2 separate regions of the Homo sapiens genome follow, and region 2 is linked to region 1. The links come from fine-mapping of genetic effects on gene expression. Tissue or cell type: blood mononuclear cells. Region 1 holds a variant in brackets; the other region holds the start of a gene. All regions are shown on one strand. Distances are from middle to middle.

The links. PIP is the estimated chance that this variant, and not a neighbour inherited with it, causes the effect.
Region 2: ZNF678 starts here. The variant in region 1 is fine-mapped to the expression of ZNF678 in blood mononuclear cells (TOPMed, PIP 0.93).

The regions. Positions count from the first base shown.
Region 1 is chr1:227,896,919-227,905,091 of GRCh38, forward strand. No RefSeq gene overlaps it. Among named protein-coding and RNA genes, the nearest start is that of MIR5008, 41 kb to the right of the region's middle. RefSeq lists enhancers at 2,633-3,133, 4,367-5,367. The variant G/A (reference allele first, on the strand shown) is at 3,547.
Region 2 is chr1:227,558,565-227,566,737 of GRCh38, forward strand. ZNF678 (zinc finger protein 678) reads left to right here and starts at 4,992. Exons shown (of 4, transcript NM_001367909.1): 1 at 4,992-5,160. It also overlaps the pseudogene RNA5SP77. RefSeq lists enhancers at 293-602, 633-692, 4,948-5,227.

The DNA.
Region 1 (8,173 bases):
TCAAGAGGCAGAAGCCCTGTGTTTGGGAGCAGGCCTGCTGGGGACCACTAAGGGTCAGGGTCCCTCATAAGACTTTGGGGGCAGCCTCGGAGGCCCAGGCCACTCAAACATGGGAGCCAGGCTGGTGGACAGGGCCACAGCCCCACCCAGAGTCCCCCAGCACTGGGCTTGGGCCCCCGCTTCCTCCAGGGGAGACCACGTGGGTGACTGAGTCCCACTTGTCCCCTCCAGCTCCTCCCCTGCCCCATGGGTCCTCCCTCACCCCTCACAGCCTCAGTGTCCTTATCCGGGAGATGAGCTGCCAGCCCCTCACATACAGGCTGCAAACCATCTGCCACACTGCGGGAAATCTCTATTTCCTGGGTTCTGCAGTGTGGGGATGAGAGCAGGGAGACAGGACAAAGAGGAGGGGCCCTGAGACTGGCTCTCAGCCCTTGGTGCAGGCCACAGCTGGATTGGGGTATGGGGCTCAGGCCCAGTACTCTGTATCCAGCTGACACCCACAGGACATTCTTGTAGCCTCCCCAGCAATGGGGAGCTCCCACCTCCAGGGACAGCCCATGGCTCTGGGGTCACCATCCCACAAGTCAGCTCTGCCCAAGATGGTGGCCACCGGCTCCTGGCTGGTGATGGGCCTGAGGTGGAAACAGGGCTGTCTCCTCCCTCCAGGCTGAATGGCTCTGGACCTGGCTGTTTCCAGGGATAGAGCCCCGTTGCCTGGCTCAGCCAGCCTCATGGTTGTCTAGAGAATGCATGGATGAATGAACGAATGATTGACCAAACAAATGAATGAATAAATTAATGATTAACTGAACAAATGAGTGAATAAATGAACTAGTGATTAATCAAACAAATGAGTGAATGAACTAATGATTTACTCAACAAATTAATGAATGAATAAACTAATGATTGGACAAATGAACAAAGAAATGAATGGATAAATGCACAAACAAGTGACTGAACTGATTGGATGAATGAACAAAGGAATCAATGAGTGAACAAATGATTGAACAAAGGAATGAATGAATGAATGAATGAATGAACTAGTGATTAATCAAACAAATGCATGAATGAACTAATGATTTACTGGACAAATTAATAAATGAATGAACATATGATTGAACAAAGGAACAAATGAATTGATAAATGAACTAAGGAGAAAATGAGTGAATGGCTGAATGAATGAACAAACGAATGGCACCCGGCCAGTGAGGAGTGAATGCATTTGTCCCTTCAGCAGATATCTGACCACCAGGGTCAGCGGTGCTAACAGGCCAGGGCCCAGCTCAAGCCCCCGTTTCCTTTTCTGAGGAGTATCCCCAGGGTCTCATCCTCCCAGTGATTCAAGGCCCCTGCCTGTGGCCCAGTCCCCCAGCCAGCACTAGGAGGGTCCCACCTGCCTCCTTCAGCCATAGCCCCCATGTACACCCATGGGTCTCCTCCCTCACCTCTCGACTCTGAGGTGGGTGGCAGGAGGTAAGAGAGCTGACCACCACCGGCCCAGGGATCTCACACATTGTAAAAAAAAAAAAAAAAAAAAAAGGTGCCTCAGTTTCCCCACCCCATTGCCCTCCTTTGGAATTTCTATGAAGCATACGTGGGGTGGTGCACACTTGGCACACACGGACGGACACACACACAGTCACACAGCCACACACAGACCAGGAAGTCACACACAGAACCTTGAAACCTCACATGAGACCACTGAGAATCCCATGGCAGAGGACGCCCTGCCTGTGGGCAGCCCACGCACTGACAGCTTCCTGGGGCCCACAGTGAACAAGGCCCAGGCCCCTAGGCAGACACACGCAACGAGAGGATGGACAGGTGGACAGAGGCAGAGGAAGGAGTGGATCCCTGGACGGCTGCCTGGCGAGTCAGGCAGGTGGTGTGGGTGGGGTGGGGGTCATAGTGGGAGGTGGGTGGATGAATCCTGGGAAGTTGATGGGACTGGTTTCTACCATGGGGGACACCACAAAGCTCCAAGCTTGGCTCGGGAGGCTGGGCACAGAAGCCCATCCTTGTCCCAGCTCTGCAGACCCCACTGTCCTTGCCAGCCCCACCCTCTGCACCTCCCAGTCCCTTCAGATATTTCAGTCCCCAGGTAAGTGCTTCTGTCTCCTGACACAGGTGCTCCTGCACACACACGTTCTCATGCAGCACACTCAAGCGCAGGCTTAGGCACACAGGCCACCTCTCACAGCTAACATAGGTCAAGTGACAGTGGGCCAGGGGGTGCAGGTGGGAGAGCCGGAGAGGGGGGTCTCAGAGAACCACAGGGGAGTGGCCAGAGCAGGGGGAGGGACCAGGATGAGAGGAAGGGATGGGGTAGCTCCAACAGGCGTATGACAGCAGGGTCACAGGCTGTACCCACCCTGCCTGGCCGCTGACACAGGGGGCCAGACAGGGGGCACAGGGCAGAAGTGCAGGGCACTGGGCCAGGCTGAGGACCTTCTGCTGCCCTCGGGAGAGCTACCCCCCGCCAGCCCCTGGGTGACAGGCCCTCCCCTAGATGCCACTGGTTCACCCCTGCCCTCCCCAAAGTCACGTCCTAGGCACCCCTGCCCTCTGTCCCCTCTTCTTCCCTTGCAAAGTGGCAGGTGCAGGTGCTCACGCCAGGCTCGGCAGCCCCCAGTCTGCTTTGCGGCTCTCTCTTTCAGTCTGTCTCTCTGTTTCTGTCTCTCTGTCTTACCTCTCTGCCACTCTCTGTCTCCCTCTGTCTCTGTCTCTCTGCTTCCCCCCTCTGTCTCTATCTTCCCCTCTGTCTCTCAATCTCTCTCTCTCTGTCTCCCTCCATCTTTCTCCGTCTCTCTCCTTTCCTCTCCCTATCTCTTCCTCTCCCTGTCTCTGTCTGTCTCCCGGCATGTCCCTCCCGCTAGTGTCTATGTTCAGCTGTTTTCCTCTGGCTGTGTGAGGGCAGTGGTGGGTGCAGGGGCGTCCCATGCTGCTCTGCTGTTGGAAGTTCCTTCATCCAGGGCGGAGAATGTGCTTGGGCCAGGGGTAGGAGGCGGGGCGCAGGCGGCCTGCAGTCCCACAGGAACTCGTGCAAGGAAAACTCTCTGAAGCTGCAGGGCCCACGCACCCACCTTGGCTGTGGGACGGAGAGAAGCCCCTCCGGGGTACAACTCCGCCAGACGGCCCAGCCTGAACCTCTTTTCCACGCACTTCCCCAACTTCCACAGCCTCCCCACAGCCCTAGGTCACTGGCCTATGCCCCACCATGCTGGGACCAGACCCCGGAACGCCTCCCACCTGAAAATGGCCTTGAAACACATGACTCCGTCACAGTCACAACAGACTGCAGGCAGGGCACCAGCCTAGTGCCACAGCCCACCAACAGCGTGCGGCCAGACCAGAGCACAGGCCCACAGACCCACAGGAGCCATGCTCAGTGTCCCTCCCTCAGTGTCAGCCCACAGAGGCTGGTGGCCATGGAAGCAGGAGAGACAGGACAGTGAGATAGACACATAGGGACAGACAATATCAGTGTCCCGTCTCCACAGGGTCCCCATGTCCTTGAGGTGACCTGGGCCACATGTCCCCTCA[G/A]TGTTCTGTCTTTCTACAGTGTCCCCATGTCCACGGGGAGGGGGGGGGGAAGTGGGCCACACATCCCCTCCACATCCCATCCCTCCACAGCATTCCTATGTCTACAGGGGGACCTGGGCCATGCGTCCCCTCCACGTCCCATCCCTCCACGACATTCCCGTGTCCATGGCGGGACCTGGGCCACATGTCCTCTCCACATCCCGTCCTTCCACAGCATTCCCATGTCCACAGGGGGACCTGGGCCACACGTCTCCTCCACATCCCGTCCCTCCATGGCATTCCCGTGTCCATGGGGGGACCTGGGCCACATGTCCCCTCCACGTCCTGTCTCTCCACAGCACTCCCATATCAATGCAGGGACCTGGGCCACGTGTCCCTTCCAGGTCCTGTCCTGTCCGTGTCCTGTGCTCCTGCCTTTGGGGCTGTAACTTTCAATTTCTTGGCCCAGTTCCAGGCTTGTCAACAGCCTCTGGCAGTCAGGAATTGGACATTCTCAGAAGAGTATCAGGCATGGTGCCCATTGGGTCTGTGCAGTTATGTTGTGCCAACTGTTTGCTTTTCCCGCCATGTAGGCTCATTCTTGTGTAAAAGATTCCCAATTGCACAAGAACCTGGCTGGTCTTTAGGGCTGGGTAACTGGGAGTAGGAGGGCCCCAGCCTTTTCTTTTGGGCCTTTGAATTGATAGAAGCTCAGGGTCCATCGGGAGGGATCTCCTAGTGACCTTGGAGCCCACAGACCCCAGCAGAGACCCCCCCGCCCCACCAGCCCTCCTGGTTACCTCCCCGGCCCAAAAGGTCCATCGGGGACTGGCCCTGGGAGTCAAGGATGCTGCGATACCTCCCCCTGCAGAGCTCCCCTTCCTAGGGAGCCTGGACCAGACCCAGCCTCTCCCAAGCCCTTGGCCAGCCCTCCAGCCCTGATCCAGTGGAGCTTGACGTCATGAATTCAGCAGCATTTCCATGAGTACCCCTCCTCCCCTGTCCCAGCGACCGTGCTAGACCAAGCAGTCTGTGGGGCTGTCTGGCCTCCTCCTTGGCTGTACCCAGGGTACATCAGGCCTCCTGTCCACACCAAGCCCCTGCTGGGGACAGGCACTGGGACCTTCCAGGCAGCCCACCGGGCCTCAAAAAGCCCCTCTCCCATGGGCATCATCCTTGAAGGCACCTGGCCCAGGATAGACACGTTGTCTCTGAGAGTGGCACCTAGGCCTGGGCAGGCAATCCCGGGAAGCTGCCTGGAGGAGGAGGTGGCACACTTGAGTCATTTGTGATGGGAGTTCCACCTGCACGTGAGAAGGCCAGGAGGGTCCAGGCAGAGTTCCTGGGCCTGGACAGCATGTGGGCCATAGGCAAGGCAGGGACACTGGCCTCAGGGGTCGGAACATTGTCAGGGGAACAGATGGAGGGGCAGACTTGGGGCAGGTGACCGCCCGAGGAAACTGAAGTCCAGCCCTAGGTCCAGGTAGTAGGGAGAAGGTGGGTAGGGACAAGACAATGGGGACAAGCCTCACGGTGGAGAAGCTCGGGAGGAGGGTGGGGGTGCCCATGACAGAGCCCCAGGATGGGCTCCTGCGAGGGCACAGCTCCACCCCCCGCCCCCCAGGCTGAGCCCACTTCCCATCTCCAGCATCCCCAGGGATGGGAGAGGAGACTCCAGGTGGGAAGAAACCCCTGATCTGAGGCTGCTCCTAGGGGAAGAGGGATGGCTTACCCTGACCCCTGATGGCCAGGCCAGGCCAGGCAGGTCTCTGTCTCTCTATGTCTGTGTGTCTGTCTCTACCTCTGCCTCTCTTTGTTTCATTCTCTCTCTGTCTGTCTCTGTCTTTCTGACTTTGTGTCTGTCTCTGTCTTACTCACTGTCTGTGAGTGTGTGTGTGTGTGTGTGTGTGTGTGTGTGTGTCTCTGTGTGTGTTGCTGGGTCTCCCTGGTGGCCTGGGGAGGTCCTGCGGGTGGTGTGGCCTGGTTGAGCCTAGTCAGCCGTGGGGAGGGGCCTCTCCTGCTGGCCCCGGCCTCCTGGGCCTTTGTCTCCCTACCCGTGCATTGAGGAAAAGAGTCATCGGTCTGGGATAACAACCTCCTGCCGTCCAGAGGCTGGGGGCCCAGAGCCACATGTACAGGCCAGGACAGTGGGCAGACGGCTCCATCCTGGAACTCTCAAGACAGCAGGGGGTGGGGCTGACCAGGGAGGGAGGCGGCTTCACATTGCCTGGAACACCCAACCTGAAAGAGCAACTGCTCCCCAAGCCGAGACCAGGGTACCAGGGGCCAGGCAGGGCTCGGGAACCCAGGACACGCCAGCCTGGCCTGTCCTGTGGCGCCGCCAGACCCCCATGCCTGGGCTGCCTCAGTGCTCCTGCCATCCTCTCCTCCAGTCCCACTGTGGGCACCAGTGGGGCGGGGATGCCTGATCGTGAGCAAGGAGGGGCTCCCCAAACCCTAGGCTGAGGCTGGGGGCTCTAAGGAGACCCGAGACAGTGTGGGGCAGTGGGGGGACTGGGCAACTGGCATATCCCCACATCCTACAGCTCCAAGGAAGACCTGTCCTTCCCGCAGCCCTTGAAATTCGAGCCTAAGAGAATCTAGAGCCAGGGCCTGGCCTCTGCTCCCAGCCAGGCACTAGGCACTGCAAACCCCAGGGTGGGACCCTGACCACCTCACAGACCTACCCCACACACAGCTGGCTCTGGAGCCCCACCTGGGCCGTTCACAGACTAGCCAGGCCCCGGATGGTGGCTGGAGACGGGCGCCCCTCCTCCCACACAGCCAGACCCCTCAGCCAAGAAGGTGCAGCCCCACGGGCACCACAGGGCACCCCTTGCCCAAAGGCCTCCAGGTGGAAAGGAAGCCAACACCTCATGGCAGGAGAGGAGGCCACGCCTGCCTGGGGTGTGGGGGATGCAGCCCCACCCTGGGGTCTTGGAAACACGGCCCTACCCTCGGGTCTGGGGGAAGTGGCACCACCCTGGGGTCTTAGGGATGTGGCCCCACCCTGGGGTCTGAGGGACACAGCCTCACTCTGGGGTCTGGGGGACATGGCCCTACCCTGTGGTCCGGGGGATGTGACCCTACCCTAGGGTCTGGGAAATGTGGCCCTACCCTGGGGTCTGGGGGACATGGCACTGCCCTGGGGTCTTAGGGATGTGGCCCCCCTGGGGTCTGGGGGACACAGCTTCACCCTCGGGTCTGGGGGACATGGCTCAGGGGATGTGGCCCCACTCTGAGGTCTGGGGGACACAGCCCTGCCTTGGGGTCTGGGGGATGTGGCCCCGCCCGGAGGCCTGGGGTACACAGCCTTACCCTGGGATCTGGGGGACATGGCCCCGCCCTGGGGTCTGGGGGACGTGACCCTACCCTGGGGTCTGGGGGATGTGGGCCCGCTCAGGGGCCTGGGGTACACAGCCTCACCCTGGGGTCTGAAGGATGTAGCCCTACCTTGGTTCTGGAGACACAGCTGTGATCACAGGGCTGGCAGCTCCCAGAGACCTAGTTGAACCCAACCTTGGCTCTGCCCTGGTCCTCTCTGGGCTGTGACCTGGGCATGTCAGGTGGAGGGGTGGCCAGAAGCGCACAGCGGGCCAGGCGGGCCATTCCCCATTCCTGCTAGAGCATGCCCAGCCGAGCTCCAGTCTAGACCCAGCTGTTCATGAACCCTCTGCCAAGGCCATGTAGCCCTGTGACATCCCGGCTCCCAGCTGCAGTCTTTCCCAGCCTGTCATGGGGACAAGGCAGTTGGGCCCTCCCTGACCAGGCAGGCCTCGTGGGACCCCCAGCCCTGCCCTGGGTCTGCCAAGGGGACTTTGTGCTCTGGGTGCAGACGGGGCGGGGGTGTGCATCCCCACCATGCCACTGGGGCTTGGCACTCGGCCAGTCACCCTTGGCTGGGGGCAGCGGGAGCCAGGGCAGCAGGAGGTTAGCCGGGTGTCAACGAGGCGATCTCCTGGGGTCAGTGGGCACCAGCTGAGGGCAACATCTCCATGGGATCCCGGGTGGCGGGCATGTTCCCTGGAAGGTTCGCTGTGGCTCCTGTCTGTGCCTGAGCTCCCAAGAGCATCTGGCCCTCGCATTCCATCAGGGGAATAAGAGGGCAGCTCTCACACGGCCCCAGCCCTGGACTGGGGAGGGTCATTGTCCCCTAAGCCTGGAGGTGCTGTTCATGGTGGGTGGCTCTGCAGATGCCCCTGTCCGGCCGGGTGGGCAGCCACCCTTCCTGCTGTGAGCCTCAGGCACAGTGCCCACAGCCAGCCCTTCTGTGGGGACCGCAGCCAGAGGCCCAGGAGTGGGGCACAGTCCCTGGTAGCTCCTGGACCACTCAACATGGGGTGAGAGGCCCACAAAGCCCCGTCATCTTCACACACAAGGCTGCAGGAACTAGTCTAGGGGCCTGGGCACCCCTCAGGGTCACTCCAAAAGCGCCCTGGCTCCAGTCTCTGTGTACCTGGGAACCTCAGTGCTCCTCCTGGGCTCTGCTCCCTCCTAGGCTCGAAACTGCCAGGGCACCCAGGCCCCTCCTCCTAGGATCCCTGCCCCCGGGCAGCCCCTGCCTCACCTCTCCCTTCAGGGCCATCCCTGGGAGGGGTTCACCCAGCAGCCCCTGGACAGAAGGAGTGGGCCTACTGTCTTCTTTCGT
Region 2 (8,173 bases), 340 kb before region 1:
GGAGCCTGGCTTGCTGTGCGGGGAGCGGCGGGCCAGGGCCTGACCTCAAAGACGCAGGGGCGGGTTCCCTGCAGTCCTGAGAGGTTTCCGCTCCCGGAACCTCCAGGTAATTCAATTCACTCATCCGGCGCTGCCTCCACCGTCCAAGCTGGGGGAAGGGGCGGGCAGGGGCAGCGGGCTGCTTTCCCGGGGGGAAGGACATTGCCTTCGCCAGTCACCAGGAAAACCGTAACTGTACACCCGGAATCCCATTGCCAACAACTTCATGTAAACTCCAGTCCCAAGGACACAAGAGAGACCCAGGCCTCAGGCCCCATGGGCACTCTCGGCGTCAGGGCTCTCGCCAGACAGACTGGGGCAGTCTACAAATCTCGGGGCCCACCGCAACAAGTGGACAGGAAGGAGCAAATTAAGGGAAAACCCTACGAAACACACCTCCAACGCAACCAACCAATCCAAGAAAAAACACGTTTCAGGGCTCCATTGGCCCACCCTCGTGGGCGGCCCTGCCGCCCTGTTCTGGCTCAGCTCAAGCACCCTCCACCCTACCCCAGCCTGCTCAAAGGGGCCCTGTGTACTGGAGCAGAACGCTTCCTCTCCAAGGCTCTATGGCTCTCGCTTTCTAGGTTCCTCACCCTCTCTCTTTCTCTTCTTCCCCCTTTACCTCGCGCTCTTTCTGTCACCTTTTCTCTCTCTCTCTCTCTCTCACCCTTCTGTCTTCACCCTCACCCTGCCTCTCTCTCTACTGCTGTCTCTCTCTTCCGCCGTTTCTATCTCTCCATCTCTCATTCTTTGCTCTCCTTCAAGCTGTCTCTGTATGTGTCTTTGTCTGTGTGTCTGTGTGTGTGTTTGCCCACGCGCGTGCACCCTTTGTGGGGGGGGGGGGTGCGGTGGTTTAGCTCGTGGTGGTCATTAGTTGTGCCTGGGTGGGCCTCACCCCCTGTCTCACGGGATCAGACTGCCGGCTTTGGTGCCAGCGCGGGGCAAACAGTGCCCCTCCGCCGGACCCCTTGTTGCCCACAGGCAGGGTCCTCCTCGGGAAAGGCAACGGTGGTGAAGGCTTTGTGAGAAAGAGGGCCCGCGGGGCTGGGTCGGCTTATCGCCCTTGGGCAGCCCTGGCGGCTCTGATTGGGTGGGGCAAGAGGGGGCCTTGCAGGAGGGGCAGCGAGGGATCCAAAACAATCCCTCAGCGCTAAGGCGGACGACCAGAGGGGATCCCAGGACCCAGGACCGTGGGCCCTGGGCCCTGACGCCTCGGAGCACACCCCGTCCTGAGCGGGCCCGATGTGGTTTCGGGAGCTCGGGAGCCGGGGGAAGGCCTGGAGCTTCAGCGGAAGGGAGGCTGCCTGGAGAGCCCAAAGCCTGTTCTGGCCCAGCCCAAGCACCCTCCACCTACCCAGGCCTGCTCAAAGGGGCCCTATCTACCAGAGCAGAGCGCTCCCTCTCCAAAGCTCTATTGCTCTCGCTCTCTAGGTCTCTCACCCTCTCTTTCTCTTCTTCCCCTCCACCTCGCGCTTTTTTTGTCGCCTTTTCTCTCTCTCTCTCTCTTTCTCTCTCTCCTCCCTCACCCTGTCTCTCTCTCTATGGCTTGGAGAGCGCTCTCTCTCCAGGGCTCTATCGCTTTCGCTCTCTAGTTCCCTCACCCTCTCTCTTTCTCTTTTTCCCCCTCCACCTTGCGCTCTTTCTGTCGCCTTCTCTCTCTCTGTCTTTCTCTCTTCCCTCACTATGTTTCTCTATCGCTGTCTCTCTCTCCCTCCGTTTCTATCTCTCCATCCCTCTTGCTCTTGCTCTCCTTCAAGCTGTGTGTGTGTGTGTGTGTGTGTGTGGCCGCAAGCTTGCGCCCCTGTGTGAATGGGTGGTTTTGCTCATGGTGGTCGTGAGTTGTGTCTGGGTGTGCCTCAGCCCCTCTCTCCCAGGATCAGGCTGCCGGCTTTGGTGCCAGCGCGGGGCAAAGCAGAACCCACCCGGCCCCCTTGTTGCCCACGGGCTGGGTCCTCGTCGGGACAGGGGACAGGGTTGAAGGCGTTTTGAGAAAGAGGGCCCGCAGGACTGGGTCGGCTGATCGCCCTTGGCCAGCCCTAGAGGCTCTGGGTGGGTGGGGCAAGAGGGGACCTTGCAGAGGGATCCAAAACAATCCCTCACTGCTAAGACAGAAGACCGGCGGGGATACCAGGACCGTGGGCCCTGGGCCCTGACGTCTCGGAGCACACCCGGTCCTGAGCGGGCCCGATGTAGTGGAAGCTCGGGAGCTCGGGAGCTGGGGAAAGGCCTGGAGCTTCGGCGGAAGGGAGGCCACCTCGAGAGCCCGAAGCCTGTGCAGGAGACAGAGGCCTCTGGCGCCCACGCCCGGCAGCAGGGCGGCGCTGTGGCTGTCCCACGCTTGGCCTGGCCACCAGCTACTGCGGGAGGCTCTGGGAGGCCAGCGGAAGGCGCAGCGCGCGGTGGACGGTGCTCGGGCGTAGAGGGGGAGAGCGGCCGGTAGAGGGGGAGAGCAGACCAGCCCGGCCGCCGGCGAGCAGCTCAGGGGTACTTGATCCGAGCCCCGTGGACCCGGGGTTGCCGGGATGCCTGGAGTCGGGCGCGCAAGACTGAGCGGAGCTCTTAGGGCTGCCAGGCGTCTATGGCCATACCACCCTGAACGCGTCCAATCTCGTCTGATCTCTCGAGGCTAAGTAGGGTCAGGCCTGGTTAGTACTTAACTGGGAGACCGCCTGGGAATAACGGGTGCTGTAGGCTTTTTGGTTTCCCGGTCCCTCCCACTTTCCTCCTTTTATCGCGATGCCTCCCAACCGCACCCTGACTCTGCTCCTCCTTTTCCGCCCGCCTGCGCCCTCGCGGTACCCTGGGACCTCCTCGTGGGGCGTCCGCCACTGCAGCACCGCCAGTTAGCAGCTTCCCAGCTCTTCCGCCTGGCAGCCACCCCATCAGTAGCCCAGCTCGCTGCCCGGGGCGGGGCGGGGAGGGCCGGGCCGGGGCCAACCTCGAAGGCTCAGGGGCGGGTTCCCTGCCGTCCAGGGTGTCTTCCCTCTCCCGGGACGCCCAGGGAATTTAATTCACTCATCCAGCGCCGCTGGCACTGTCCAAGCCGGGGGAAGGGGCGGGCAGGGGAAGCGGGCCCCACAAGACACCAGCCAAGACCTCCGCTCCAGAACGCATGGGCTACTTTCCCCAGGGGAAGGACATTGCCTTCTCCAGCCACCAGGAAAACCGTCCCTGTGCACTCGGAATCCCATTGCCACCAACTTCGTATAAACTCCATTCCGGAGGACACGAGACAGACCCAGGCCTCTGCCCCGTGGGCATGCTCGGTGCCACAGCTCTCGCTAGAGGGACGGTTGCACTCTACAAATCTCGGGGCCCACCGCACCAAGAGGACAGGGAGGAGCCAACAAAGGAAAAGTCCTATGAAACGCACCACCAAAGCAACCAATCCAACAAAAAATACGTCTCAGGGCTCTGTTGGGTCACTCCGTTAGCCCTTCCACCCTGTTCTGGCCCAGCCCAAGCACCCTCCACCCTACCCTGTCCTGCTCAAAGGGGCCCTGTCTACCGGAGCAGAACACTCCCTCTCCAAGGCTCTATGGCTCTGTAAGTCCCTCATCCTCTCTCTTCTTCTTCCCCCTCCACCTCGTGCTCTTTCTGTAGCCTTCTCTCTCTCTCTCTCTCTCTCAATCCTGACTCACTCTGCCTCTCTATCACTGTCTTTCTCTCCCTCCGTTTCTATGTCTCCATCCCTCTCTCTTGCTCTCCTTCAAGCTGCCTGTGTCTGTGTCTTTGTCTGTGTGTCTGTGTGTGGGTGTATGTTTGCAGGAGGGGCAGCGAGGTGTGTCTGGGTGCGTCTCAGCCCCTCTCTCCCGGGATCCAGGGTGTGTGTGTTGGGGGGAAGCTGTGGAAAGGGTGTTGAAGGAAAGTGACAATCAGCTTCCTGAAGGGCACTGACAGGCCATTATTCCTGTGGCTTGGCAAATTTTCTGTTTGAACTTATTTCTTGTTAAGGGTCCAAGTGTACTGACTATGGAGATAAGAAAAGAATAGCTCTAAGTAGCTGAAGCTCTGTGAGGTACGGAAGATTTTTCTGGCCCAGAGAGACTTGAGTATGGGATTTGAGACACATCTCCACACCCTTTCCCAGGGGCAATTGTTTAAAGGTATGTTGTTCCTAACTAGCTGTCTCATCTGGAATTTGTGATACAAAGAACAATGTATAGCCAGTCAGTGACTTCTGGATTTTAATGTAAATTTTTGATGAAAATTTTAGGAACTGCCTCTTTTCTTAAAACCCACTTGTAATGGTTACTAGTTGGAATGTATAATCAGGGCAACTTTAGTCTATGCTCTCAGGTAGGTATCCTAAACATATGCTTTTGAATATACTTTTGAAAATAGATTCTGACTTTTTTATTATGATGGGTTGACAGGGGACTGGCCTGGGACACCTGCCTGGGTGTAAATACCCCAACCATGCGCTGCCCTGCCCAGCAGAAGAGGCGGGTGGACAGCAGGCCCCCTTTGGTCAGAAACACATGCATTGCATAGCTGTTCTGGACCTGGGTCCTGCTTGCAAGGACAGTTCCACAGGCGCACCGGAATGCGCCTCCCCTTTCCACCCGCCAGCATTCCCAAGCACGCCTCGGCTTCTGACTGTTCTGTGCTTTGGGAGGAAAACTCATCTTCAGGTTTTTCTCCAACAGAAGATGATGATGACGTTGTTTAGACACTCAGGAACAGAGATTGCAGATTGGCTTAAGAGTGCGCCCTTTATTAAAGATGGTATGCATGGAAAGACATGGAACAATTTTGGAAGGATACAAAAAAAATTGCCCATTTTGTTAATAGTCTCATTCAACCCCTTTGCTGACCTCATCTCCTGTCACTCATAACCAAAGGAGGCGGGTCCTGGAGCCCTGTCCAATCAGGGACATTGACGTGGGAACTGTCCAATCAGGAGCGCAGCTTGAGAGGCGGAGGGGGTTTCCGGGATCTGGCGGGGCCTTTGTCTTGTGCTCCAGCTGGAGCTTTGGTCCCGTATTCTCGGCTATTTATCCCCAGCTGCGGGAGGCCCTGGTGACTCTGCTGCTGCAGTGTCTGGTTTCCCTGTGACCTGCAGGTACTGGGAGTTACATAGCTAAGATGCCAGGACACCCCGAAAGCCGGAAAACGGTGAGAGTTCCCGGGAGGGTGTTCCAAGATGGCGGTCCGGCCTCCCGGCGTCAGCACTAGAGTCCGCGGCCCGGAGTCCCGGCTGGCACCTGTGGGATCTGTCACCTCTGGGTAGGGGCGGGGCCAGGCCGCCGCGGGATTCTCCTCCCATCACTGCGCCGCGGCTTCCGCCCCGGCCTCTCTGGGCGGCTATGAAGCCGCAGCCCCGCGGGTCCCCCAGACTGTGTGCTTTGTCCAGAGGGGAGGGTCATCGGGGAGAAGCCAAATCGGTGTGCGAAACATGCGTGGGAAGAGCTGTTCCATGGGGCTTATCTTAGCTGTGCAGTCCATCCTTTTTCCTGTGAAAAATGGAGTCACTTTTAAAGCTTTGAAGAGTTTGAGGAAAGGGAGTTTCATGAATGGGAGAGCGCCCAGCTATGGTGTGTGGCTTGTGGGTTTATGGAGGAGGTGCTTGAAGGAAAAACTTTTTTGTAAGGTGCATGAGGAAGCAAGCCAAATTTAATAATTGACGACAGTTACAGTCACCTTATTTGGACTGTCCAGGTGGAAATTTCCTGGTTATTTAATTACTGATTAATTGGAGTTTTGTGATTGGTTGAACTTGGATTTTGTTTCTACTTAAGGCAGTCATTAACAAGAAATGCATTTGAGCTATTAATATTCTTTTTCATGTAGAAACGCAAGACACTAGAGCCACCTCAGTCTAATTGCCTGCTAATTATTTTAACACTGCACAAGAGACTGCTTTTCCCCTGCATTTTCCAAATAACATGGAAAGCAGGGTCTTAAATCCACTCCTCTGTTCTCCCAGCCTGACTCTGGCCTGCAATAAAATACTAAATTTTCAGTTTCTTTCCAAAATTCATAAAAACCACCATCACCTCTTCAGTTCACAACACTGTCAGCTATTTGTCTTTTATTGCGTACTCCAGGCACAATATTTTAATTAATCATTTTTTCACAGAACATTGGAGGGCACTCTTTGTTGTTGCTGTTGTTGTTTTGTTTGTTTTTGTTTTTTCTTTAAGAAGGAGTCTCGCTCTGTAGCCCAGGCTGTAGTGCAGTGGCGCGATCTTGGCTCACTGCAACCTCTGCCTCCCGGGTTCAAGCGATTCTCCTGCCTCAGCCTCCTGAGTAGCTGGGATTACAGACCCGCGCCACCACCCCCGGCTAATTTTTGTATTTTTAGTATTTTGTATTTTAGTTTCACCATGTTGGTCAGGCTGGTCTCCAACTCCTGACCTCGTGATCCCCCGCCTTGGCCTCCCAAAGTGCTGGGATTACAGGCGTGAGCCACCACGCCTGGCCTGTTGTTTTTTCCCTACCCGGCTTTTTTTTTTTTTTTTTTTTTTTTTTGGTTGAGTTGGAGTCTCGCTCTGTTGCCAGGCTGGAGTGCAGTGGCGTGATCTCGGCTCACTGCAGCCTCCGCCTCCTGGGTTCAAGCGATTCTCCTGCCTCAGCATCCCAAGTAGCTGGGACTACAGGCGTGCGCCACTACACCTGGCTAATTTTTGTATTTATAGTAGAGACGGGGTTTCACCATGTTGGCCAGGATTGTCTTGATCTCTTGACCTCGTGATCTACCCGCCTCTCCCTCCCAAAGCGTTGGGATTACAGGGGCGAGCCACCACGCCTGACTTGTTGTTTTTAAGAGGATCTTGCTCTGTCATCCAGGCTGCTGGAATGCAGTGACATTGTCATAGCTCACTGAAGCCTCCAACTCCTGGACTCAAGTGATTTTTCTGCCTCAGCCTCCTGAGTGGCTAGGCTTAAATGTGTGTGCTGCCATGCCCAGCTAATTCTTTTTATTTTATTTTTTTGTAGAGATTGGGTTTCGCTAGTTACCCATGTTTGTGGAACTCTTTAAAGATTTGTTATCTGTTTGTGAAGGCAGAGAATAACCTCTTGGCACTCTATTGTAAAGAAATATTTGTGCCACTCTGCTTTTTATCTTTCCTAGGCACAGACGCCTTGTACAAAATCTTTGAAAACTTTGGAAACTTTACAGCTGGTTGTATCCTCAGCCACTCTTTTTTATTTTTATTTATTTTTTGAGACGGAGTCTCGCTCTGTCGCCCAGGCTGGAGCGCAGTGGCCTGATCTTGGCTCACTGCAAGCTCCGCCTCCCGTGTTCACGCCATTCTGCCTCAGCCTCCCGAGTAGCTGGGACTGCAGGAGCCCGCCACCATGCCCGGCTAGCTAATTTTTTTGTATTTTTAGTAGAGACGGGGTTTCACCGTGTTGGCCAGGATGGTCTTGATCTCCTGACCTCGTGATCCGCCCACCTCAGCCTCCCAAAGTGCTGGGATTACAGGCGTGAGCCACCGCGCCCGGCTCCTCAGCCACTCTTATCCTAGTCCTGAATTTCAGAATTGTCTGGGAATGGCCCAAGATGCCCACAGTGGCTATGTCTCTTGGAGTATCTAGTGAATTTTGGTTCCTGGGTTTTTTCCTCCCAGAGGACAGCCTATGGCATGGAGATGGAGCCTCTCAGTGAAGCAGCTGGATGTCCTGGGGCTGAGAGAAGTCTTCTGGTACACCCTTCACCTAAAAAGCTAACCCCTTAGACATTCTCCCCCAACCCCCAATTTCATTGCCTGGAGACACATCAGTGGTGTTGGGAAAAGACAGAAATAATTCCTGCCCTCTGGATTCTCAGACTTGTGAAGGGAGAAAAACTAGTCCAAAGGACAAGCAATAACTACTCCAGTGAGCTGGTGCGAGAACATGCAAAGCAAAACATCCCTGGGGCACACCGTGAGGCACAGTGCAGTGTCTCCAGACAGAATGGTCAGTGAGCACTTCAGTGAGCAGAATGAGGGGTGGGAGAATGTCCCAAATTATAGGATAGCCTGACTTGACGCTTGAGTCGGATGTGTCTGTGTTCCAGGTAGTACTGCTTCTCCCTGAGTTTGTCACCTTAAAAAGATTTGTTCACTTATTTCATCATCAGTTTTTTATTAAGTATATATTACACTTTATCAGTAGAGCTTGAAAGGTTAGAAAATATTTA